Homo sapiens: one gene and its partners. The protein of the gene in region 1 interacts with the protein of each later gene in a biochemical or structural test. Each region holds a gene or a part of one and is shown in the gene's direction. Other genes may lie near its edges. The genes, in order: PTPN11, NOX4, KIT, FCRL3, KDR, HSPD1 and CAV1.

Evidence for each region.
Region 2: the proteins of PTPN11 (region 1) and NOX4 form a complex in vitro, tested with the Homo sapiens proteins (one large-scale study listed by BioGRID).
Region 3: the proteins of PTPN11 (region 1) and KIT form a complex in vitro, tested with the Homo sapiens proteins (3 studies listed by BioGRID and IntAct, with this or other methods).
Region 4: the proteins of PTPN11 (region 1) and FCRL3 form a complex in vitro, tested with the Homo sapiens proteins (one study listed by BioGRID).
Region 5: the proteins of PTPN11 (region 1) and KDR interact in far-western blotting, tested with the Homo sapiens proteins (one study listed by BioGRID).
Region 6: the proteins of PTPN11 (region 1) and HSPD1 form a complex in vitro, tested with the Homo sapiens proteins (one large-scale study listed by BioGRID).
Region 7: the proteins of PTPN11 (region 1) and CAV1 form a complex in vitro, tested with the Homo sapiens proteins (2 studies listed by BioGRID).

Annotation. Positions count from the first base shown.
Region 1 is NC_000012.12:112,484,947-112,488,446, forward strand, and holds part of PTPN11 (tyrosine-protein phosphatase non-receptor type 11), read left to right. Parts: intron 1-1,516; coding exon of another isoform or gene 1,517-1,528; coding exon 1,529-1,683; coding exon of another isoform or gene 1,684-1,687; exon of another isoform or gene 1,688-1,977; intron 1,978-3,496; coding exon 3,497-3,500. UniProt on the Homo sapiens protein: Acts downstream of various receptor and cytoplasmic protein tyrosine kinases to participate in the signal transduction from the cell surface to the nucleus. Positively regulates MAPK signal transduction pathway. Dephosphorylates GAB1, ARHGAP35 and EGFR.
Region 2 is NC_000011.10:89,488,576-89,492,599, reverse strand, and holds the start of NOX4 (NADPH oxidase 4), read left to right. Parts: upstream 1-1,224; 5' UTR 1,225-1,353; coding exon 1,354-1,410; intron 1,411-1,621; exon of another isoform or gene 1,622-1,627; coding exon of another isoform or gene 1,628-1,747; intron 1,748-1,839; exon of another isoform or gene 1,840-1,915; coding exon of another isoform or gene 1,916-1,993; intron 1,994-2,046; coding exon 2,047-2,142; intron 2,143-3,606; exon of another isoform or gene 3,607-3,751; intron 3,752-4,024. UniProt on the Homo sapiens protein: NADPH oxidase that catalyzes predominantly the reduction of oxygen to H2O2. Can also catalyze to a smaller extent, the reduction of oxygen to superoxide. May function as an oxygen sensor regulating the KCNK3/TASK-1 potassium channel and HIF1A activity.
Region 3 is NC_000004.12:54,737,957-54,741,215, forward strand, and holds the end of KIT (mast/stem cell growth factor receptor Kit isoform 1 precursor), read left to right. Parts: intron 1-472; coding exon 473-601; 3' UTR 602-2,759; downstream 2,760-3,259. UniProt on the Homo sapiens protein: Tyrosine-protein kinase that acts as a cell-surface receptor for the cytokine KITLG/SCF and plays an essential role in the regulation of cell survival and proliferation, hematopoiesis, stem cell maintenance, gametogenesis, mast cell development, migration and function, and in melanogenesis.
Region 4 is NC_000001.11:157,697,970-157,701,956, reverse strand, and holds the start of FCRL3 (Fc receptor-like protein 3 isoform 1 precursor), read left to right. Parts: upstream 1-1,187; 5' UTR 1,188-1,295; intron 1,296-1,371; 5' UTR 1,372-1,467; coding exon 1,468-1,498; intron 1,499-2,244; coding exon 2,245-2,265; intron 2,266-3,327; coding exon 3,328-3,573; intron 3,574-3,987. UniProt on the Homo sapiens protein: Promotes TLR9-induced B-cell proliferation, activation and survival but inhibits antibody production and suppresses plasma cell differentiation. Enhances activation of NF-kappa-B and MAPK signaling pathways in TLR9 stimulated B-cells.
Region 5 is NC_000004.12:55,112,096-55,115,595, reverse strand, and holds part of KDR (vascular endothelial growth factor receptor 2 precursor), read left to right. Parts: intron 1-184; coding exon 185-315; intron 316-553; coding exon 554-722; intron 723-1,330; coding exon 1,331-1,470; intron 1,471-2,114; coding exon 2,115-2,292; intron 2,293-3,500. UniProt on the Homo sapiens protein: Tyrosine-protein kinase that acts as a cell-surface receptor for VEGFA, VEGFC and VEGFD. Plays an essential role in the regulation of angiogenesis, vascular development, vascular permeability, and embryonic hematopoiesis.
Region 6 is NC_000002.12:197,486,084-197,489,840, reverse strand, and holds the end of HSPD1 (60 kDa heat shock protein, mitochondrial), read left to right. Parts: intron 1-593; coding exon 594-839; intron 840-1,349; coding exon 1,350-1,524; intron 1,525-1,804; coding exon 1,805-1,983; intron 1,984-2,642; coding exon 2,643-2,795; 3' UTR 2,796-3,257; downstream 3,258-3,757. UniProt on the Homo sapiens protein: Chaperonin implicated in mitochondrial protein import and macromolecular assembly. Together with Hsp10, facilitates the correct folding of imported proteins.
Region 7 is NC_000007.14:116,528,036-116,531,535, forward strand, and holds part of CAV1 (caveolin-1), read left to right. Parts: intron 1-3,500. UniProt on the Homo sapiens protein: May act as a scaffolding protein within caveolar membranes. Forms a stable heterooligomeric complex with CAV2 that targets to lipid rafts and drives caveolae formation. Mediates the recruitment of CAVIN proteins (CAVIN1/2/3/4) to the caveolae.

The DNA of each region.
Region 1 (3,500 bases):
CCTTTTACATCCCTTTTAAAAATGTCACTTAAGGCTGGGCAAAGTGGCTCATGCCTGTAATCCCTGCACTTTGGGAGGCTGAAGTGGGTGGATTACTTGAGGTCAGGAGTACAAGACCAGCCTGGCCAACATGGCGAAACTCCTTCTCTACTAAAATTAGCTGGATGTGGTACATGCCTGTAGTCCCAGCTACTCGGGAGTCGAGTCTGAGGCCCAAGAATTGCTTGAATCGGGGAGGCGTAGGTTGCAGTGAGCTGTGATCAGGTCACTGTGCACCAGCCTGGATGACAGAGTGAGACTCTGTCTCAAAAAAAAAAGTCACTTAGCTTAGATTGTCTCTACATATATAGGAAGAAGATGTAGGAATGAATGGTGCTGCTACAATTACGTCATCTGGATAGACCCAGAAACATGATACTTTTTGGTTTTCTGTAGCCTTGGTGCCATTGTTGATCTTTATTAATTATCATTATCCTCAAAATAGCCATAATGTGCTGAGTCTCTTCCTATTTGCTGGGCAGAGGCTGAGTATTTCAGCGAGCTCACTGAGTCCTTAAAATTGCATTATGATAGAGAGAAAGAGATTATTATTTGCATTTTGCAAAATGAAGAAATTGAGGTTTAGAGATACCCAAGGGCCACGTGAGTGTGAGTGCCTGGAATTGGAGCCTAAATCTAGTCATCTGATAGCAAAGCCTGTTTTCTTATCTGCTTTGCATTAAATATAAGTTTAAAATAGAACAATACTGGCCAGGCTGGGTGGCTCACGCCTGTAATCCCAGCACTTTGGGAGGTCGAGGCAGGCAGATCACCTGAGGTCAGGAGTTTGCAACCAGCCTGGCCAATATGGCGAAAGAAACCCCATCGCTACTAAAAATACAAAAATTAGCCAGGCATGGTGATGTGTGCCTGTAATCCCAGCTACTTGGGAGGCTGAGGCAGGAGAATGGCTTGAACCCGGGAGGCAGAGGTTGCAGTGAGCCAAGATCACGCCACTGCACTCCAGCCTGGGCAACAGAGTAAGACTCTGTCTTGGAAAAAAAAAAAAAAAAGAATGATACTATAGTCTGTGTTTATATGGTGGGGAAGGTTGAGTATCAAAAAAATAACAAAGAGGAATGAATGTCTTAAGTGAATGCCTGTTTCCCCATCTGCTTCCTCTTCTGCTGGGAGGAGAGACCTGGATCCCTAGAGGTTTCAGTTGCCTCCAGAGCTGAGTGCCACAGGGATGCAGGGGAATAGGGATGTTACCTGTCGCTGGTAATTCAGAGAGATGATTCAGGGTATAGTTACCTGAAAGAACAAATTGCCATGCCAGACGTCTTGGTTCTTATGACAGAGGCAAAGAGTTGCCTCCAGGATTGCCCAAAAGGAGACGAGTTCTGGGAACCTCACGAAGAGGACCTTTCAGTGGAACCTGGGGAGATTCTCTTCCTCTCCATTGGATTTAGGAAAGCTTAGAACCGGGTGATTCCTCAACCTCTTGATTTATTTAATTCTTTTCTGGTTTTTCTTGGCTCTACTCCAGGGGAATACGGAGAGAACGGTCTGGCAATACCACTTTCGGACCTGGCCGGACCACGGCGTGCCCAGCGACCCTGGGGGCGTGCTGGACTTCCTGGAGGAGGTGCACCATAAGCAGGAGAGCATCATGGATGCAGGGCCGGTCGTGGTGCACTGCAGGTGACAGCTCCTGCTGCCCCTCTAGGCCACAGCCTGTCCCTGTCTCCTAGCGCCCAGGGCTTGCTTTTACCTACCCACTCCTAGCTCTTTAACTGTAGGAAGAATTTAATATCTGTTTGAGGCATAGAGCAACTGCATTGAGGGACATTTTGATCCCAAGGCATATTTCTCCTAGACCCTACAGCACTGCCATTGGCCATGGCCATGGCAACATGCTCAGTTAAAACAGCAAAGACTAAGTCAGCATTATCTCTGAGTCCACCAGAAGTTGTGCATTAAACAACTTCATCCTGGCTCTGCAGTTTCTCCTTATTCTTCATGATGTTTGCTTTGTAGCTGTTGACTGCTTTGTAGGTATTGAGGTGGTGGGGGTGTGGTGGAAATAGGCCTGACTCTTGAGGATCCCTTAAGTCATTTTTGCTTGGTTCTCTTTTTCCTTCTTTTCTTCTACTCTTCTATGATTCATCTCTTTGATTGTGATTCTGTTCTCTCTCTCTCTCTCTCTTTTTTTTTTTTCGTTTTTGAGACAGAGTCTTGTTTTGTTGCCCAGGCTAGAGTGCAGTGGTGCCATCTTGGCTCACTGCAACCTCCGCCTCCCGGGTTCAGGCCATTCTCCTGCCTCAGCCTCCCAAGTAGCTGGGATTACAGGCATCTGACACTACGCCCGGCTAATTTTTGTATTTTAATAGAGACAAGGTTTTGTCATGTTGGCCAGGCTGGTCTCGAACCCTTGACCTCAGGTGATCCACCTGCCTTGTCCTTCCAAAGTGCTGGGATTACAGGTATGAGCTACCATGCCCGGCCCATTCTGTTCTCTTCTACCATAAATATATTTCTCCCCTAACACTATATTTGTTTGCTTCACAAGATTCCAGCTGCTTTTCCACCAAGGCCTTTGATGGAAGCTGTGCTGTGACCTCTGTAATGAGTCTGTGGGCTGCTGATTCTCCAGTTTGGGCTTCATGATTATACTGGGGAATATTGGGTTTCCTAAATCTCATTCATTTCTTGGGCAAGTAGATATATGTGAAAGTGTTTATTTGTCCAGTTGTTAAAGAAGCTACCATTTATTGAGCCAGCCTCTGAGCACAATGTTTTTTGTTTTGTTTTGTTTTTAATTTTTAAAATTATTTACTTCTTCTATTTCAATAACTTTATTATTATTATTTTTTGAGACAGAGTCTCACTCTGTCACCCAGGCTAGAGTGCAATTGAGCGATCTTAGCTCACTGCAACCTCTGCTTTCTGGGTTCAAGCAATTCTCATGTCTCAGCCTCCCGAGTAGCTGGGATTACTGGTACGTGACAACATGCCTGGCTAATTTTTGTGTTTTTAGTAGAGACGAGGTTTTGCTATGTTGGCCAGGCTGGTCTGGAACTCCTGGCCCCAAGTGATCCTCCTGCCTCGGCCTCCCAAAGTGCTGGTATTATAGGTGAGAGCCACTGCGCCCGGCCCTCTTTCAGTAATTTTGATGTATTTTTTTGTATATGATTCCTGTTTCATTCTGTCCAACCAGCACTCTGTATGGTATGTGCTGTTGTCCCCATTTCACAGATGCAGAAATTAAGGGTCAGAGAGGTTAAGGGACTTACCTCAGGCACGTTGTACTGGAGAAGCTGAACTCCAAGAGCAGGTTTGGGCTGACTCCAAAGCCCTATGCTTTTTGCCAACATATTTTCAAACATAAATAGACAATTTTATAAATAGCTCCAAAGAGTAGACATTGTTTCTGTTGATATTAATGGCTTGGTTTTGAGTCTGAAACCCCCATGAATGATTCTGTTGTCCCTGCTTTTTGTCCTTCTGCCCGCAGTGCT
Region 2 (4,024 bases), on another chromosome or scaffold:
GGCTATTAGAAAATTGTGTGAAGTCTAACAGGGACTTGATATGAATTCATTTTGATTTTTAAAACTGAGGACTGCAATCATTAATCAGTTCATTAAATTAATTGGAATAAGTATATTGCATGTAGTGAGAGTAGTAGTATTTTTTGAAATTTTAGTTTTAATTATATCCTATGGCCTGTGTTGTAAGATTTTTTATTTTAAGAGTTTAAAAGCCATTCGATTAAGCAACTAGTAGTAAACTTTTCTGTCTCTCATTAGTTGTTAAATCTAGAAAAGTTATTGGTTTAACAAACCTTTATTGGATATCTATTTTGCATCAGATTTTTTTCTACATGAATGACATTTTTTTCTCTCTCTTTTCTAATACTGATTTGTTGCAGTGTCGAATAGGTACCTGGGTCAACTCCACACACTTCTCACTCTTCACTGGACCTCTGGTACAAGATTGAGAGGATTCCTATTACTTACAAACAGACTAGGTATTAAAACAAAAAGATTCCCGAATAGAGTGAACCTAACCTAGAGCCCCTAAGAATTACATCAGCTTTAACCATTAATTCCCTGGGTTCTTCTTATTCAGTAATGTCTTAAAACCTTTTTATCAGTATGGGATGGGCGGGCAAGGGGATAAAGAAACTGGCGGCTGGTGGGAAGCCTTAGGTAAGGCTGTCAGGGGGGCTTTAGTTTGGGAGTGGGATAATTTGCTGAGGAAGGGTGGGAGAAACGTGAACTAGCACACAAAAGGCTGTTTCCGGCTCAAATTTCGTTACCAAGGCTCTTTGAGATGAACTTTTTTGGGGGAAAACAATCAGTCTAAAAGAGCTGTGTCTTCTTGTGTGTGTGTGTGTGTGTGTGTGTGTGTGTGTGTGTGTACAAGGGGGCGGCGAGGGTCCCCACTTTTAGTATGAGTAGCATTGTTCACATGTTTGCCAGTATTTTGGAGCCTGGCAGGCCTGGGTAGAGGCTGCGGGGGACGCCTCCAAGTTCCCACCCGGGACATCCTGAACAGCAGCAGCCACAACAACAGGCTCGCCCCTAGACAAAGGGGCCGGCGCGGCGGAGCAGACTGGTGCAGCCTGGGCCGCGCGCTCAGAGCGCTGGGCGTCTGGGCAGCTGAGTGGGCAGAGCTGACCCGGTGCGGGTGGGAGTCAGGGCGCCCGGAAAACCCGGCTCTGGGTAGCAGACCCCGCCCGGGCTGGCTCGGCGCCGGGCCTTCGGGCTTCCACTCAGTCTTTGACCCTCGGTCCTCGCTCAGCGGCCCGGCAGGCCGCACAACTGTAACCGCTGCCCCGGCCGCCGCCCGCTCCTTCTCGGTCCGGCGGGCACAGAGCGCAGCGCGGCGGGGCCGGCGGCATGGCTGTGTCCTGGAGGAGCTGGCTCGCCAACGAAGGGGTTAAACACCTCTGCCTGGTAGGATGGCGGGCTAGGCTCTCCTTGCGTTCTCTCTGTCCTGCAGTGATTTTGATTCATTCTCTGAGCGTGCACGGGTGGGAAGCTGGAAGTGGAAGTTTTGTCTTAATTCGAACATTCTCAACTTACAAAACTTTATGCTGGAGATAACAATGAACACTCCCCCTCCCACCCCCTCGCCTGTCCCCCAAATGCATGAGAATTTTTCTGCACATTGATGGGAGAGATGTGGAGGAAGAGGGAAGAGGTCATTTTCCGTGAATACAGCTTTTCTTTTTACCCTTTAAACATTTTTGCTCCCTTTGTTCTTTTCCCAGATTACTTCTGTTTGCTTGGGGTATGGTGATGTCATTAATTTCTTAATCTCATTTTGTACGGCAGGGGATAGCTGTAAATCATTTAGGAAACCTATTTGCAACCCAAATGCTTAGTCTCAGGTGAAAGGGCTGGGTAAAGTCAGATTTGTTTTCCTCTGAGTGGTTTTCAGCTTGCTGGTTAATTGAAAATGCTTTCTGCAGTTACTGATTTAGGTTCCATTGAAAGCACTGTGTCGAAGAATTTACCTGTGGTTTCTATTCATCAGGTAATAATTATTTTCAATTTTTGTTTTCTGTCTCTCATGTCTGATTGGTTTAGTTCATCTGGCTCTCCATGAATGTCCTGCTTTTCTGGAAAACCTTCTTGCTGTATAACCAAGGGCCAGAGTATCACTACCTCCACCAGATGTTGGGGGTAAGTAAGGTGAACTTGGATAATCTGGTGGAATGGGTTTAACACTGGCAGACATTGCTACAGGTTTGGTCAGTTCCATTCATTAAAGAAATGTGCACTCTTCACTTTGAAAACCTTTGTTGTTCTCTAAAGTGGTCACATTTTCCTGATTTATCATTTACACTTGTACAAGTTAAAAAGATTGACTCTCTCAAGAACCAAAGGTAATATCTGCTGAAGTGAAACGAATGAACCTGCCAGACCAGGTTATTGGTGCCTTAAAAAAATTGCTACTTATTGCCAGCTGCTAAGTACCCTGAAGGATCTGATTCACTAGGAGGATCAACCAATAACAAGCTTTTAGTATATACTTATCAGTGCTTTTAGCCTGCTCATGAGCTTATCCAGAGGATTTCTGCACTGTTTGTTTTTACTGACAACTCTCACAAAATATGGGTCTAATGGGGTTATTCATTTCTGGGCAGTTCTCAGTGCTTGCTTTGGGTTAGTGGCTGATGATATTCCAGTATTCTACTATAATATGAGAAAGATACTGGGCAAAACTTTTTTCTGATTTATTTTATGTTAATATTTTTCTTTCTTTTCTATGATGTTTCTGATTTCATTCTTCTGTTCCATCTCCTTCTTATTTGACTGCTTAACAGAAGATAGTGTCACTGAAGGCATATTACTTTGCACAAGGAGATTGCGTTTTCTTTTTCTTTCTTTCTTTCTTTCTTTTTTTTTTTTTGAGACAGAGTCTTGCTGCGATGCCCAGGCTGGAGTGCAGTGGAGTGATCTCAGCTCACTGCAACCTCTGATTGCCTGGTTCAAGCAATTCTCCTGCCTCAGCCTTCTGAGTAGCTGGGACTACAGGCACGCACCAGCACACCTGGCTAATTTTTGTATTTTTAGTAGACACAAGGTTTCACCATGTTGGTCAGGCTGGTCTAGAACTCCTGACCTCAAGTGATCCGCCTGCCTCAGCCTCCCACAGTGCTGAAATTACAGGCGTGAGCCACCATGCCCGGCTGAGATTGCATTTTCTAAGCAACAAGCAAAAAGTGTAAAACCCTGCAAAAACTTAGGGAACCTGAAAAAATAGATTTTGCATTTTGGTGAGTGGGGGGGTGCAGAAAAAAACACATTTTGCTTTTTTATTTTTTTTCATGGTTTAATGACTACTTAAAATTAAGACGAGCTCAGACAAATTCAGTGGAACCAGCTCTCCCTTCTATGTTTTACATGGAGAGATCTTATTTATCTGTAATTCTCAGTACCCAGACTAGTGATTGGCACATATTAAGCCTGCAACAAGTTGCAGTTGAATTAATTAATTAATTTTTTATACAACAAAGTAATATCATAATCTGTTGATCACACACTTTATAAAGTTTAACTTCTAGGTTTTAAGCCAATGGGTTGAAAAAAATAGTCTGTAAAGCTAAACCCATTTCATTTATTTCTTTCATCCATCCAATCCAGGAACTGTCTTGAAACCTATACATTTCAGATGGGCACCCAGAGAGTAAGACCTCACCTCGCCCCTCAAGTTGCTTACAATATAATGGAAAAACCAACAAATAAATAATTATAATTCAATAAACAAGAAAAGGTTTCTTCTAATAAACACATGAGGTCTGATAACTTTTTGGTTTTGTTTTCTAGTATTTCCCCATTAGGTGTAACTTAATGAATAGGACGTTTTTCAGTGGAAGCTTTATCTCATCTATTACATAACTTGATGAACAACTTGGAGAAAACTCTTTAGATATAGAATGGTAAAATTTGCTCTGGATCACGAGGTATTTGTATTAATATAAAAATCTAAGAACTGGAAATTTATTGCAATAACCTAGAAAGCCATAACTGAACTTTGGATTTTAGCTTTGTGAGATAGTAT
Region 3 (3,259 bases), on another chromosome or scaffold:
TGATAATTTTTGGGTTAAAGCTTGTTCTTCTGGGTGTCAAAACATGTTTCAAATTGAACAGCATTTTCCACCCAGTTGCTTTGATTCTTGACAAGAGACCCCTGGAAGGGCCGTGGGTTTCCCAGCAAATTACATTGGTTATTGGGTTGTAGTTGCTGGAGAGATTTACAAGCCTTTTAAATAGGTAAGATAGTGCTTGGTGCCTGGTGTGCCCTTTTAGAAGAGCTAAGCTTGTGCATGTTTTGTCCCCACTTCTTGTATAAAGTTATTTCCTTGGAAAAATGAAGGGGGAAAACAAAGCTTATATTTGTTTTGTCAGTATGACTTGGGTTTTGGCCACAAAGTTCTTGGAAACCACTTCTCTCTTAAGAGTTTCCATCAGTTAGTTGTGATCTTGACACTGTAAGTATGCCTTTTGTTGCTATGTTCGTTGTAGGGACTGCTGTATTGACTATGGGCTTGTTTTCTCCAGATTTACTCCAACTTAGCAAACTGCAGCCCCAACCGACAGAAGCCCGTGGTAGACCATTCTGTGCGGATCAATTCTGTCGGCAGCACCGCTTCCTCCTCCCAGCCTCTGCTTGTGCACGACGATGTCTGAGCAGAATCAGTGTTTGGGTCACCCCTCCAGGAATGATCTCTTCTTTTGGCTTCCATGATGGTTATTTTCTTTTCTTTCAACTTGCATCCAACTCCAGGATAGTGGGCACCCCACTGCAATCCTGTCTTTCTGAGCACACTTTAGTGGCCGATGATTTTTGTCATCAGCCACCATCCTATTGCAAAGGTTCCAACTGTATATATTCCCAATAGCAACGTAGCTTCTACCATGAACAGAAAACATTCTGATTTGGAAAAAGAGAGGGAGGTATGGACTGGGGGCCAGAGTCCTTTCCAAGGCTTCTCCAATTCTGCCCAAAAATATGGTTGATAGTTTACCTGAATAAATGGTAGTAATCACAGTTGGCCTTCAGAACCATCCATAGTAGTATGATGATACAAGATTAGAAGCTGAAAACCTAAGTCCTTTATGTGGAAAACAGAACATCATTAGAACAAAGGACAGAGTATGAACACCTGGGCTTAAGAAATCTAGTATTTCATGCTGGGAATGAGACATAGGCCATGAAAAAAATGATCCCCAAGTGTGAACAAAAGATGCTCTTCTGTGGACCACTGCATGAGCTTTTATACTACCGACCTGGTTTTTAAATAGAGTTTGCTATTAGAGCATTGAATTGGAGAGAAGGCCTCCCTAGCCAGCACTTGTATATACGCATCTATAAATTGTCCGTGTTCATACATTTGAGGGGAAAACACCATAAGGTTTCGTTTCTGTATACAACCCTGGCATTATGTCCACTGTGTATAGAAGTAGATTAAGAGCCATATAAGTTTGAAGGAAACAGTTAATACCATTTTTTAAGGAAACAATATAACCACAAAGCACAGTTTGAACAAAATCTCCTCTTTTAGCTGATGAACTTATTCTGTAGATTCTGTGGAACAAGCCTATCAGCTTCAGAATGGCATTGTACTCAATGGATTTGATGCTGTTTGACAAAGTTACTGATTCACTGCATGGCTCCCACAGGAGTGGGAAAACACTGCCATCTTAGTTTGGATTCTTATGTAGCAGGAAATAAAGTATAGGTTTAGCCTCCTTCGCAGGCATGTCCTGGACACCGGGCCAGTATCTATATATGTGTATGTACGTTTGTATGTGTGTAGACAAATATTTGGAGGGGTATTTTTGCCCTGAGTCCAAGAGGGTCCTTTAGTACCTGAAAAGTAACTTGGCTTTCATTATTAGTACTGCTCTTGTTTCTTTTCACATAGCTGTCTAGAGTAGCTTACCAGAAGCTTCCATAGTGGTGCAGAGGAAGTGGAAGGCATCAGTCCCTATGTATTTGCAGTTCACCTGCACTTAAGGCACTCTGTTATTTAGACTCATCTTACTGTACCTGTTCCTTAGACCTTCCATAATGCTACTGTCTCACTGAAACATTTAAATTTTACCCTTTAGACTGTAGCCTGGATATTATTCTTGTAGTTTACCTCTTTAAAAACAAAACAAAACAAAACAAAAAACTCCCCTTCCTCACTGCCCAATATAAAAGGCAAATGTGTACATGGCAGAGTTTGTGTGTTGTCTTGAAAGATTCAGGTATGTTGCCTTTATGGTTTCCCCCTTCTACATTTCTTAGACTACATTTAGAGAACTGTGGCCGTTATCTGGAAGTAACCATTTGCACTGGAGTTCTATGCTCTCGCACCTTTCCAAAGTTAACAGATTTTGGGGTTGTGTTGTCACCCAAGAGATTGTTGTTTGCCATACTTTGTCTGAAAAATTCCTTTGTGTTTCTATTGACTTCAATGATAGTAAGAAAAGTGGTTGTTAGTTATAGATGTCTAGGTACTTCAGGGGCACTTCATTGAGAGTTTTGTCTTGGATATTCTTGAAAGTTTATATTTTTATAATTTTTTCTTACATCAGATGTTTCTTTGCAGTGGCTTAATGTTTGAAATTATTTTGTGGCTTTTTTTGTAAATATTGAAATGTAGCAATAATGTCTTTTGAATATTCCCAAGCCCATGAGTCCTTGAAAATATTTTTTATATATACAGTAACTTTATGTGTAAATACATAAGCGGCGTAAGTTTAAAGGATGTTGGTGTTCCACGTGTTTTATTCCTGTATGTTGTCCAATTGTTGACAGTTCTGAAGAATTCTAATAAAATGTACATATATAAATCAAGTGGAGTCATTTGATTGTTGAGATTCGTTGAGATTAAACTTTAAAGCATTAAAGTGCAATCATCCTGACAAAGTTTTGTACGCAGTTTTCATAAAATATGTGCAGGGCTATCAGATCACGCTAGGATTTACATGCTTCGAGATTCAACAGATATTAAGAATTTTCATACGTGTGATATTTTCTCATTTTAGTCTTACAACCTGAGGTCTCTATTTAAATTGAAAAATAGATACAGAGAAGGTGCTTAGTATGTATGAGCTGGGTGCTGTCATGTGGGTGAAACATTATGCATGCCCAATTGGTACCGTCCAGACCACTGGAACCCAAACAGAGGCTGAGAGTTCTTCAGCTTGAAACAAAAGGAAGCACCCTGAATCACATAATCTTATTAAGAATGAGGCACCCACACACCCTCAGTCATGACTGTCTTTATTGACGTGACATCTACACCTGCAGAAATGTCTCCTGAAAGGAAAGGGAAGGGGTGAAAAGTGACCTGT
Region 4 (3,987 bases), on another chromosome or scaffold:
GTCCTTATTGACAAATTGGTATGTGACAAGTGCTCTGTTAGGCATTGAAACAAAATGAAGAACAAACCAGGCTTGTTCCCAAACCTTGTAATACTATCTAATGAGAAAAATAGGCATTATACAATCACATAAACATATAGAGAATGATAAAATTTGGTGACTTCCATGGGAGAAAGAACATAATAATATTTGTTAAAAAAGAGGACCCTCTTTCCATTACCTGCCAAGGTTGGGCACCCTGAGGATGGGACATTTGATCTGAGATCATCTCCCATTTCTAATGTAAAGGTATCTGAATGATGACAACTTTATCCTGGTAGGTAGATTCCCAAGAATGGCTTACCTCTAAGTCTAAAACACGCCTTCCTAACAGAAGTTATATCACCTTCAAAGGGGCAAGAATTGACTCTTGGGAAGATGAAAAAAACTAATTTTTTAATGTATCAAACACAGCTATACATGCAGCACATAAACACATACATAGTATATTTGTGGTATTAAATTTTCATGGAAAAAGGGGGTGGCTAAAAACAAAATTGTCTAAAAAAGATCCTTAGGGGAGCAATAACGAAAAAATGGTTGAGAAACACTGGTTCAGAGTTTTTATTCAATAGTCCCTCAAATAATACTTACTAAAGGAATGCTTTCAAGAAAGAACAGTTAGAGGTGCGGGGGATATAAGGGGTAAGAAAAGGGGCCCTTAAATGTTAGTGGGAAAGAAGACACGAAAGCAAACAAGGAAATAGAGAAAATAATTGCAAATTGTTATAAACACTGTGAAAAAAACACAAAGGACCTGAAACAAAATAATGGGGTGGAACCTCTTTGATTGCAAAGCCCTTTCTGAGAAGGGCTTTGGCTTTAAAAACGGTGGTACGCTTGCTGATTTATCTCCTAATTTGCAGATCTGGGTGAGATTACGGGAAGTCCTTGATCTGTACATTTGTATTATTTTCCTGTTCAGAAGCCTCATAACAACTTATGTGAAAGTCAAAAAGGCATATGCTTGACACCTTGACTGTGTGATTCACACCACGCTCATTAAGCTTGCCTACATTAGGAGCTGCATGCAGAACCAAAGGCTGTGTGAAGACAAGGTAGTGAAGGGGTTTCCCATATGAAAAATACAGAAAGAATTATTTGAATACTAGCAAATACACAACTTGATATTTCTAGAGAACCCAGGCACAGTCTTGGAGACATTACTCCTGAGAGACTGCAGCTGATGGAAGATGAGCCCCAACTTCTAAAAATGTATCACTACCGGGATTGAGATACAAACAGCATTTAGGAAGGTAGCCACATTCACATTTTCAGAGCCCAAAGCAAAATATGACACTAAGCTCTTCTTCCCTTTTCTGATTCTTGCAGGTCTCATCTGAGTAGCAGCTTCCTGCCCTCCTTCTTGGAGATAAGTCGGGCTTTTGGTGAGACAGACTTTCCCAACCCTCTGCCCGGCCGGTGCCCATGCTTCTGTGGCTGCTGCTGCTGATCCTGAGTGAGTAGATGGGCTATAATGGGGCCACGGCCTCAGTTCCTAAAGGTGACCAGGGAAAAACTCAAGGAGCTTCTATCTCTGCTTCTACTTGGGGTTCAGAGACAGATAGCAAGGGATGGGAAGTGAGCAGAGCTGGGTTCCCTGGACAACCAAGAGGCTCCAAATGCAACCATCAGAGCAAGCCAGATATCCTGACCTTGGTTTCTCACCCACTGCTTTTCTCACCTCATAGGAAACTTGGATTTTTCCTTCTGCCAAACCACAACTCTATATCCCACCCTCCCTCTTAAGCCTCAGACTAAATAATTTTTCAGATGAGCAGTTACTTCTAAAAACCTAGGCACGTGAAGGAAGGTTTACTGAGAAACATCACTGTTTTCTAGAAGTTTTAAGCCAAAATTTAATCAGAGATTGAAAAAGTGAGGGGAACAATAGGAGCCCAAGGAACGAAAGGAGGATAAACCATTTCTGTAAGTCCTTGTCTGCCTCTGCACTCAGAGAAGAGAAGGAGAGAATAAAGTGTGCCGTGGCCAAGTAAATAATAGCAGAGATGAGGTCAGGCCTTGGACATAAGCCATCACGTTTGTAAAATACATTATATGACATTTTCTTTGTTGTTTAGGGGCTCTGGATGATATAAAAAGGGAGCAAAGAAATGATAAGGAAAAACAAAAGAAGTGGTTGTGGTTAGGTTGTTAGAAAATGTTTCGGAGAGTGTCTGATTGTCATTTTCTGCTCCCTCACAGCTCCTGGAAGAGAACAATCAGGTAAGTTTCTCCTTCTCTCTGCCCCTCTGGTCTCTGGATATTGGTCCCCTCAGCCCACACAGCCTGCCCTAACCCTTGCAGGCACGCATCCCATCAGCAATGCTAATGCTCTGGGGTCACATCTGCTACTATATTGGGTGAACAGAGCCTCCTCCGACTTTTTCAGTCTCTAGGTTTTTTTTTTTTTTTCTCCCTACATTACCGGTATTCCTCAGACTACAGGAAGGAAACACTTGCAGAGCAAAGGACAGAGGCAAGAGGCTGATGATGAAGGAATCTCATATGTGATCTCCATATTCTCTAGTACATCTCCCTCTGAATGTCCAAGCTAGTGCTGCTATCAAAGGACATAGAAATAGATCCCATCCACGGAGGAAGATGCTACAGCAGAATCCTTATAAATCTCCAAAAAGAGCTCATGCCACTGCCACACCTCACTTCCATGCCTGTCAGTCAGTTGCAATTCCATACACAAGTCTGACTTCTCAGGCAACCCATCCTCCTCCATTTAAATTCTTTATATCCCTCCATTGTTTACTGTGTCCAACTTAAATGGAGAGTAAAGTTGCCTTCCCCATAGACTTTCAAAGCTAAGAGAGATATAAAAGTAATACAAGTGAGAAAATCTTATTCATTTTAAGTGTTAACAAGTAGGAAGTAATTTTCTGGAGTCTAGAAACTACTTCTGAGGTATATACATCCCAGGTTCACCTTTATCTGGACAGAAATGTATAGGACAAGAGAATTTCAGGATCAGCCACATTCTGAGGCCTTCGCAGTTTTTGCCCAATGGCAAATCACATCTCCTGAGCTTTTCTGAGGCTATGCCAGGAAACTGAGACCTCTCCCCTATAATACCCTTCTGCCCACCTCCAGGAAATGGATGAGGAAGAACAGATTCTTTCCCAGGCATTTCCCTAGGTTATTTCTGCTCAATTTTCCACCCTGGTCCTGACTGGAAATTAGTCCAGGAAAACTCCTGACTGTAGGTTGGGCTCCCCATGTGCTGTGCCCACCTCCCATTGACCTTCCCCTGCCTTCATCTTTCTATTTCCTGTTTAGGGGTGGCCCCAAAAGCTGTACTTCTCCTCAATCCTCCATGGTCCACAGCCTTCAAAGGAGAAAAAGTGGCTCTCATATGCAGCAGCATATCACATTCCCTAGCCCAGGGAGACACATATTGGTATCACGATGAGAAGTTGTTGAAAATAAAACATGACAAGATCCAAATTACAGAGCCTGGAAATTACCAATGTAAGACCCGAGGATCCTCCCTCAGTGATGCCGTGCATGTGGAATTTTCACCTGGTGAGGAATGGAAGGGGAGTGTCTAAAGTCAAGCCACCAGGCAGAATGCCTGAGGGCCGGGTTAATGCAGGGATCCTAGGCAGAGTTGTAAGCAGACATGGGGATTGATGCACTGACCCCAGTGGGGAAAATAAAGAGATAGGGCAGCAGCATGATGCTGGATTGTCTATCCATCTACCTCCAAAGAATTGTGGGTGACCCAGGGGCCATCAGGCAAAAAGGGGTTCAAGTCTGGGATTCCTCTTTTGTGAAAAGACATGTGAAGATTTCTCAAGAACATTTTCTGGGAATTGGTTCACCCTTGTAGGGCAAGGAAGAATCAGGTATTTGGGGCCACATGGCAATGTGGGTGGGGGCCATTTGCAGGTGTGTATAGAACTGTGGCTCTTGCCTCATGGGTGGAAATGAAAGTGA
Region 5 (3,500 bases), on another chromosome or scaffold:
ACATACACACACACCCTCATGTAGCACAGATATCTATCAGCAGAATAATCTGTGGATGCCTTTGGTTGTGTGAGGTGTCCCTTCCAGTCATTCACTTGTCTGGTTAGAGTTTAGGAACCTGAAAAATGACCAACTTTTCTAGTAAATACTATTAACTCATTAATAAAACTAAATTTTCTTCTAGATTACAGATCTCCATTTATTGCTTCTGTTAGTGACCAACATGGAGTCGTGTACATTACTGAGAACAAAAACAAAACTGTGGTGATTCCATGTCTCGGGTCCATTTCAAATCTCAACGTGTCACTTTGTGCAGTAAGTTGCATCTCCTCCAATCGTCTCTTAAGTTTTTATAATTTTAAGCTAATATTAAGATGGGTAACCTGTTTATAATATTCACAATGAGTTTTAAGGATCCTTTAGGAAGGGTCAAATGCAATGAATAAAACTAATTAGTATTCTTAAAAATAAGATGAATTCTTCAGTGATCATTGTACATGGCTCTCATTTTTGGTACTGGATTAAATATTTGATATGTCTTTTTATTACCCAGAGATACCCAGAAAAGAGATTTGTTCCTGATGGTAACAGAATTTCCTGGGACAGCAAGAAGGGCTTTACTATTCCCAGCTACATGATCAGCTATGCTGGCATGGTCTTCTGTGAAGCAAAAATTAATGATGAAAGTTACCAGTCTATTATGTACATAGTTGTCGTTGTAGGTAAGAGGACATTTCCTTTCCATATCATTAATAACATATCCTTGTATTAAGATCTTGGAGATAACAACATAGAGTGAAGAAGGATATTGAAAAGTATAGGAACTCAGGATATGGTGTTGGGCAATTCATCTGCTCTTCTCTACCAAATAAACCCATGTGCAATTGAGGTTGTCTCTTTTCTTGCCAAGATTAAGGAAGAAAAAGAAAACTTTTTAAAAAAAGGATGAAAGCGAATGGTATTACTCGAGCACATTTTATGAAGAATTCAATGTTCAGAGCATTGCTTGCTATCAATTATTTCAATTATGACTATTTTATGGAAACTTCAGCAATTTGCTAAAGCTGGCCCTACTGGCCTAGGGCTACTGACCACTGAAAGTTTACTACTTTTCTGTCCACTGGGTTACAACATCTTTGAGATCTGTGAAGGTAGTGCTTTGTAAACCTCTGTTGGCCATTTTCCTGGGAGCTACCAAGTATTGGTGAGGCCTGCAGGGAAAAACAATGTGGCATGTTTTAAAGTTGCATTACTTTAAAAAATAAATCTGTGCAAAGTTATAGGCTTATTTGCTCTCTCATGTTCTGTTTTTTCAATTTACTTGCTCTAGGGTATAGGATTTATGATGTGGTTCTGAGTCCGTCTCATGGAATTGAACTATCTGTTGGAGAAAAGCTTGTCTTAAATTGTACAGCAAGAACTGAACTAAATGTGGGGATTGACTTCAACTGGGAATACCCTTCTTCGAAGGTAACGCTAATGATTCAAAGCCAGACCTCCAAATACTTAGATAATAAGCCCCAGTGAAGTTTGCTTGAGAGATAGGGGCCTCTTTGGCCAGATAAAATGTAAGAGCCTTAAACACACACACATACACACCCACTCACACACACATACACACACACACAATTTAAGGGAATTGCAGAACAGATAGCACCCACCAAAAGGTGAAATACCAGGAATTTTGTCCTATTCTGCAATAGCCAGGCTATGAATATTAGTTTTCTCTAGGTGATTACATCTTTCCACATTATGTCATTTCTCTGTTCTCCAAAGTTTTTGATCTACATTCCTTTTAAGGGAATTTCTCTTTAAGAGGTGGCATGAGATACACTGCTCCTTAAACAGTGGTCACATTTACTTGTGTTTCTGCAGTTTATATCCATCTCACTTTCACCACGTGAGGTTTTAAAAATCCTAATTCAGTTGGTTCCATTTATTTCTCCTGAAACAAAATATATTTGTTGTCTGCATGAGGTTAAAAGTTCTGGTGTCCCTGTTTTTAGCATTAAATAATGTTTACCAAAGCCCAGATTTAATTCTGTGTGTTACTAGAAGTTATTGGGTAATGTTATATGCTGTGCTTTGGAAGTTCAGTCAACTCTTTTTTTCAGCATCAGCATAAGAAACTTGTAAACCGAGACCTAAAAACCCAGTCTGGGAGTGAGATGAAGAAATTTTTGAGCACCTTAACTATAGATGGTGTAACCCGGAGTGACCAAGGATTGTACACCTGTGCAGCATCCAGTGGGCTGATGACCAAGAAGAACAGCACATTTGTCAGGGTCCATGGTAAGCTATGGTCTTGGAAATTATTCTGTGCCTTGACAAGTGAGATAATTTAAATAAATTTAGGTCACTTAGTGATTCCTATTTTGTTCATTCAGAAGATAGTTTCTAGTTTTTCTTGTTAGGGAGGCCACATGACCTAGAGGTCAAGAGCATAGCTTTGTAGTCAGGAACTTGGGTTCAAACCTCAACTTTAAAGATGAGATGTGCTGATATACAGTAAGAGTTCATTTAGTATTACTTATTATAGTTATTGCTGCTATTAGGATTGTTACTATGATAAATAGTATTAGCTAAGGTAGTTTTTAAATTTTCATTTTATTGCAAGGCTGAGAGGCCTACTTGAATAAGCATGAGCTTTGCAAACTGGGGAAACATTTAGCAATATACAGTTGACCTGTGAGCAACTCAGGGATTGGGGGAACTCAGGGGAGTTCCCCTAACTTTCCCTCCTCTGCAGTCAAAAATCCATGTATAGGCCGGGCGCGGTGGCTCACGCCTGTAATCCCAACACTTTGGGAGTCTGAGGTGGGTGGATCACCTGAGATCAGGAGTTCGAAACCAGCCTGGTCAACATGGTGGAACCCCATCTCTACTAAAAATCCAAAAAATTAGCCTGGTGTGGTGGTGGGAGCTTGTAATCCCAGCTACTCAGGAGGCTGAGGCAGGAGAATTGCTTGAACCCAGGAGGTGGAGGTTGCAGTGAGCCAAGATCGTGCCATTGTACCCCAGCCTGGGCAACAAGAGTGAAACTCCTTCTCAAAAAAAAAAAAAAAAAAAAAATCAAGGTATAACTTTTGACTTCCACAAAACATAACTAATGGCCTACTGTTGACTGGAAGCCCTACTGATAACATAAACAGTCAATTAACACATATTTTATATGTTATATGTATTATATACTGTATTCTTCCAATAAAGCTAGAGAAAAGAAAATGTTATTAAGAAAATTGTAAGGAAGAGAAAATATATTTACTATTCATTAAGTGTAAGTGGATCATCATAAAGGTCTTCATCCTTGTCTTCACGTTGAGTAGGCTGAGGAAAAGGGGGAAGAGGAGGGGGTGGTTTTGCTGTCTCAGGGGTGGCAGAGGTGGAAGAAAATCTGCTTATAAGTGGACTCATGTAGTTCAAGTTTGTGTTATTTAAGGGTCAACTGTAATTGAACTGGAATTAAATTGAACTGGCCTTGAGAAAATCACCTTAATTTT
Region 6 (3,757 bases), on another chromosome or scaffold:
ATCTGTCACCCAGGCTGGAATGCAGTGGCACGATCTTGGCTTACTGCAACCTCCACCTTCTGGGTTCAAGCAATCCTCCCGTCTCAGCCTCCCAAGTAGCTGGGACTACAGGTGCAGTACCATGCCCAGCTAATTTTTTTACTTTTAGTAATGACGGGTCTCACTGTATTGCCTAGGCTTCTCAAACTTCTGGACTCAAGCAATATGCCTGCCTCCGCCTCCCAAAGTCCTGGGATTACAGGCATGAGCTACCGAGCTCAGTTTTGAAAGGTAGAAGTGTATGCTACAAGGGATGTAGGACTTGAGAGTCAAGGCCTATGGTCTTGTCCTGGCTCTACCAGTAAGTGTGACCTTCGATGTTTTTTTCTCAAGTAAGGCTGGTAATAATTACCACAGTTGTGAGAATTGAGAATTTGGAAATGCAGTGAAAGAGACTATACTCAAGTCTTGTTCTGGACTAACAGTGATCTTAAAATCTCTCATTTCAAAGAAATAAAGTATTTTGATGATTCTCTTGCATGGTGTATTAATAAACTTGGTATAATGGCAGAAACTGTAACCTACAACAGGTTTACGTTTAACTCTTTTTGTAGGTGTTTGGAGAAGAGGGATTGACCCTGAATCTTGAAGACGTTCAGCCTCATGACTTAGGAAAAGTTGGAGAGGTCATTGTGACCAAAGACGATGCCATGCTCTTAAAAGGAAAAGGTGACAAGGCTCAAATTGAAAAACGTATTCAAGAAATCATTGAGCAGTTAGATGTCACAACTAGTGAATATGAAAAGGAAAAACTGAATGAACGGCTTGCAAAACTTTCAGATGGAGTGGCTGTGCTGAAGGTAACATTCATTATTATGAATAAGTTTCTTGGGTTCTGAGTCCAAGAATGATTTTGCTTCTGTAGTATTCCCCAGTAGTACCATAGAACTAAACGAATACTTGAGGAATTAACTTCATAGTGGAATTTTGTTTGTTTTGTTTTGAGCTCTTCGTCACCCAGGCTGGGATGCAGTGGTGCGATCTCGGCGCACTGCAACCTCCGCCTCTTGGGTTCAAGCGAATCTCCTGCCTTGGCCTCCCGAGTAGCTGGGATTACAGGCACTTGCCACCATGCCTGGCTAATTTTGTATTTTTAGTGGAGACAGGGCTTCACCATGTTGGTCAGGCTGGTCTCAAACTCCTGACCTCAAGTGATCCACTCACCTCAGCCTCCCAAAGTGCTAGGATTACAGGTGTGAGCCACCACGCCCACCTCAGGATTGCTTTTTAAGTAAACTGCTTTTAAATGACTTGGCAATTAGCATCTTGAATGAAGAGGCCATACTAACTGGAATTCTTTTCGTCTTTAGGTTGGTGGGACAAGTGATGTTGAAGTGAATGAAAAGAAAGACAGAGTTACAGATGCCCTTAATGCTACAAGAGCTGCTGTTGAAGAAGGCATTGTTTTGGGAGGGGGTTGTGCCCTCCTTCGATGCATTCCAGCCTTGGACTCATTGACTCCAGCTAATGAAGATCAAAAAATTGGTAAAAAGTTACCTTTTAAATGAGTTTGTGGCCTGATTTTAGTTTTTCTTAGAATAATAATGTTGCAGTCCCCTAAATGGAATAGCACATTCATTTCCTGAATAACAGAAGTAGAATAGTGCTAATGTCAGAGCTAAACATGCATCACATCTTTTTCAGAGGAAATGATTTGATCTGTAGTAGGATTGGGATTTCCCTACATCAATATCCTCACAACTTATAAATGTGTTACAATATTTACAAATGAAAGTATTAAAATTTTGCTGAAATTTCTCTGTAGGTATAGAAATTATTAAAAGAACACTCAAAATTCCAGCAATGACCATTGCTAAGAATGCAGGTGTTGAAGGATCTTTGATAGTTGAGAAAATTATGCAAAGTTCCTCAGAAGTTGGTTATGATGCTATGGCTGGAGATTTTGTGAATATGGTGGAAAAAGGAATCATTGACCCAACAAAGGTAAATGGTTGAACACTTTCTAAAAATTCTTTTGTTGTTCATTTTGTTAATGTATCCTCACATCCCAAATCTTTGATTTTGTCACCAGAAAAATAGTCTAATAGCAGTAGCAACAGCAATAGCTCTTGTGCCCATCAACAATTCTCATGTACATTTCCAGCACCTAGATATTTAATACTCCACTAAAAGGAAGCAGGATCCCTTGAGTAGCAGTTGAGTCCATGCCTGGAGGCAGGAAAAAATCAGGATGGATCTGGAACACCCTGTTCCTGCCTGGCAGTAAGAATACTTTCCAAGATACGCAGAACAGGGTTTTGTTTTGTTTTGAAGACAGAGTCGCTGTGTCGCCCAGGCTGGAGTGCAGGCAGTGACAACCTCCACCTCCTGGGTTCAAGCGATTCTCCTGCCTCAGGCTCCTGAGTAGCTGGGATTACAGGCATGCACCACCATGCCTGGCTAATTTTTGTATTTTTAGTAGAGACGGGGTCTCATCATGTTGGCCAGGCTGGTCTTGAACTCCTAACCTCAAGTCATCTACCTGCCTCAGCCTCCCAAAGTGCTGGATTACAGGTGTGAGCCACCATGCCCAGACAGAAATTTTCAATAAGTCTTGCTCATATTTTACTAAGGGAAAACTAATTAATTAAATTTTTTTCTAGGTTGTGAGAACTGCTTTATTGGATGCTGCTGGTGTGGCCTCTCTGTTAACTACAGCAGAAGTTGTAGTCACAGAAATTCCTAAAGAAGAGAAGGACCCTGGAATGGGTGCAATGGGTGGAATGGGAGGTGGTATGGGAGGTGGCATGTTCTAACTCCTAGACTAGTGCTTTACCTTTATTAATGAACTGTGACAGGAAGCCCAAGGCAGTGTTCCTCACCAATAACTTCAGAGAAGTCAGTTGGAGAAAATGAAGAAAAAGGCTGGCTGAAAATCACTATAACCATCAGTTACTGGTTTCAGTTGACAAAATATATAATGGTTTACTGCTGTCATTGTCCATGCCTACAGATAATTTATTTTGTATTTTTGAATAAAAAACATTTGTACATTCCTGATACTGGGTACAAGAGCCATGTACCAGTGTACTGCTTTCAACTTAAATCACTGAGGCATTTTTACTACTATTCTGTTAAAATCAGGATTTTAGTGCTTGCCACCACCAGATGAGAAGTTAAGCAGCCTTTCTGTGGAGAGTGAGAATAATTGTGTACAAAGTAGAGAAGTATCCAATTATGTGACAACCTTTGTGTAATAAAAATTTGTTTAAAGTTAATAATTGTGTTAGCATTTCCATGATTAGAAGATACTGAAAATTGAAAGCCAGTTGAAGGGCAGGCTGGCATGTGTGTAAAACATTATCCTATCTATGATATTTTCATGTTTCTCTTTGTTGCAGACTGAACTACATTATTCCATTGATAATGGGGAAAGACAGTTTCTATTTTCCCCGGTGCAAGGATGTAATCTCTCTTGGAGCTGTAAAATCTGGGAGGTTGGAGGGAACTCCAGCTCCTCAGCATGGCCTTTGGGCTGCTGCTGCAAGCAAGGCATTGAGGCAAATATTTTTGCTGTCCTTACCTTGGACAGAAGTAGAGGGGAGAAATAAAGTCCATCATCACATGAAAAGTCAGTCACTTGAAATCCTGTACCTAGAATACCTTTGGCTTTGGTAATTTCGTTGTGTTTGGGGTACAAAAAAAAGGATCTATTTGATAGCACAACGGGGTGACTATAGTCAATAATAATTGTACATTTAAAAATAAAAGAATGTAA
Region 7 (3,500 bases), on another chromosome or scaffold:
CTAAAAACATTACCTTAAAGGGAGAGGATATTTGTGTTTTCCCCCACCCCCACCCTTCTCATGTGGCTTTGAACAAGAAGGAGAGTTGCCAGGAAAAGAGGCAGATTTCAGAGAGGGCTGGCTTCACTGGATCCTCCCTGTTGTTCCACTGCACTGTGAGTGAGATTCCCTGGAGCAAGCGAATCTCCCGGGATGAGTCAGAGAGGCCAACAGTGTGGATGTGGGTCTCCACACATAGCATGACTAAGTTGAGAAAGAAAGGCCCCACTGGGAAAAGAGACTTCAACACAGATGGAAAAAAAACATAACAGGCTTGGAGGAAATAGCAGTTTACAAAACAGCATTTCAAAGAGCAAGTGTGGGGATCCTCAAATTAAAGAAATTAAAAGAAAAAGCTAGAGCAAGCTCCTGCTAGCCTAAAGAAACCAAACCCTGACTACTTGCTCATAGAACTGTGAGCAAAACAAGACAGTCAAACCAAAAAATCCACCTAGAAAAGAATTTGGCAGTCTCACTCAGATGCCTGGCCTAGAGGGGACTTCAGAGAATGCCCTACAGAGAGACACCAAGACTACAAATGCAAATTCTGCCCAAAGAGTGCCTGGCCGATGAACAGGGTCCTATCTACATCTTATGGAGACTCCTATTTTATAAATATGTATCCTCAAGTCCAAGCACAAACAAAATAACAGAAACAGGGATGATTCTCTCCCAGTTTCCATGACAGTAAATAATAAATTTCCCTAAATTTTACTTTCAACAACATAGACTTTTTTTATTTTTATTTTTATTTATTTATTTATTTATTTTTTGAGACGGAGTCTCACTCTGTCACCCAGGCTGGAGTGCAGTGGCATGATCTGGGATCACTGCAACCTCCACCTCCCAGGTTCAAGCAATTCTTCTGTCTCAGCCTCCTGAGTAGCTGGGACTACAAGTGCACGCCACCATGCCGGGTTAATATTTGTATTTTTAGTGGAGACGGGGTTTCACCATGTTGGCCAGGCTGGTCTTGAACTCCTGACCTCAAGTGATCCACTGGTCTTGGCCTCCCAAAGTGTTGGGATTACAGATGTGAGCCACTACACCTGGCCAACAACACAGACTTCTTAAAAAAATCATGACAATAATTTTGGGTGCTTCTTAAAAGCACCCAAAGCTTTACTGCTAATGCATGGTAGCTTAAAACTTCACATAATAAGAAAGAACCAGTGGCCAATGGAATCTACTGTTAAAGGTACCCAATCAAGTAAGGAAAAGTTGGTCCTAAAAGCAAGCAGCCCTGTAAAAGCTGCTCTGTCCAATATGGTAATCACTAGCCATTTGTGTTTCCATTTAAATTTCAAGTAATTAATATCAAGTAAAATTTAAAATTCAGTTCCTTAGTCACACTAGCCACGTTGTGAGTGTGCAACAGGTAAAGCTAGTGGCACAGACATAGAACATTTCCATCAGCACAGAAATCTCTATTGGACAGTGCCAGATTAGGGTGTTCTCTGCATTGTAAAAGCATCCCCTTGCCAAGTTAAAGAAAACAACAACAAAACTCTAGAGAAGAAATGAAACCCCAGTTTCATTTCTGGAGAGGAAAGAAAACTCATGTGTGGCATGAGTTTATATTCAAGAAGGTGCAGCATTATTACCTATTTTACTAGTAATAATGACACACATTATAGTATACAATCCAGTTCCAATAAAATTAATTTCTCATCTTACTAAAAGCTTGCTGCTCCACATTATGAGACAATTTACCCAAATATAGACATTTACCCAAAAATATTAAGTAGCTTGTGAATACTTTTTAAAATTTCCTTTAATTAAAGTGGTCACAAACTCAAACCCTTCATTCTCCCTCTGAGATTTCTGTGTCATCTTTTGTTCACATTGTTATTCACATGTTTATTATGTACTTATTTTGATTTTCTAGATAAATAAAATGGCTTCAAATCTATAATTCTGATAAAATTAGCCATCAATTAATTTATTTATTAAACCCATGCAATATGCTAGATTAGATGCTTTGCTATGTAATTCCTACAATAAATCCTAGCAATCACAAAGATTACAGTTAGTGAGACGACATGCACACAGGTAAAAAGTGTTTTTAAAAAATACATACATACAACCAAAACAGTAAGTCACTGCTACATGGAAACTGATTGGTCCTTTTTCCTTTTTTTTTTTTTGCCTTGACTGCCAGGAAGCAGTTTCAAATCTATAGCTGGATTTTAAGTTTCATTAATTCATGTTCCCACATATGGTTCTGTATTTTCACTTCCCCCTTTTAACTGACATACTGTCTTATGTGATCTCTACTGTAAGCCTTCTCATCATTTTGGAAACAGACCAAATATAATATATATGATAAGGAATCAAAAGTAAATACAGTAGTGTTGAATATTGCATAACAAAAAGGTTTTTAAATAGGGAATGGTATCAATATGAAGTGTTAGGGAGACCCAGCCATGAAAAGGATAGCAGGGTCAGAGAAGGAGGATGTATTGCAGCTGGTTTAATGGAGAATGGTATGAAGGAGGTGCAGTTTGAATTGGGTCATGGAGGACAGATGGATTGCAAATAGCTGGGGCAAAAGCACAGGAAGGCATTCTAAACGAGCCAGGCATGGAGACAAGAATGTCTCCCACAAGGGAGTTGTAGTAGCTCAATCAGACTGGGATTTGAGATTTCATGTGGCAGAGTGGTAGGTGATAAAGGTGAAAAGACTGATCATAGTAAAATGCGGAGTCTGTAAATCCAGCACTCATGATAAGTTTGGACATCATGTCAACAGTGGACAGCCATAAATGACTGCAAGCATCGGTGTGGTATAATGAAGGTGACGTTTTTGTAAAATGACTCTGGTGAAGGTACAGAAGGTAATGAAAAGTAGCCAGTCTAGTTGAGCAGAAAAGAGTTCAGATGTAATTGCATCATGGTCCAGATGTGAAATGAAGACAATGCGAAGTGGCATTGTGGATCGAAACATACATGCACAAAATGACAGAATTTTAGAATTTGAAGGGATCATCATGGTTACCAGGCTGGCCTCCAATTCCTCTTTTGTAATATTAATAGAAATTAAGGGCTAACAAGTTTAAAATGTTATCCATCTTTTTACATAGTTACTGCCCAAAGTGAATATTTTGAAATGTATCATTAAAGAAGAATAGATAAGATTATGTGATTCACCATGGACTATTGTCATGAGAGGAAAAATGTGTTTAGATGATTCTGTTAGCACTGAGACAAATCAGGATATCTGAAAGGAGGTCTTTGTTGAAAAACAGAAATATGCATTCATAACTTGCTTTTCTAAAATTGGAATGTAATGATTCTTAAATATGCACAGACACAAATTTTTCTTTAACAGTCAAGAAAATGCACGCAGGTGATAATCAGATCAGTTTTGGTTATAGTACAAAGGTTTAATGCCTCCGTGATCCCTTTCAACTTGAAAGCATTCTAGAGCAATTGGTGATTAATATCAGTATAACAGTCAT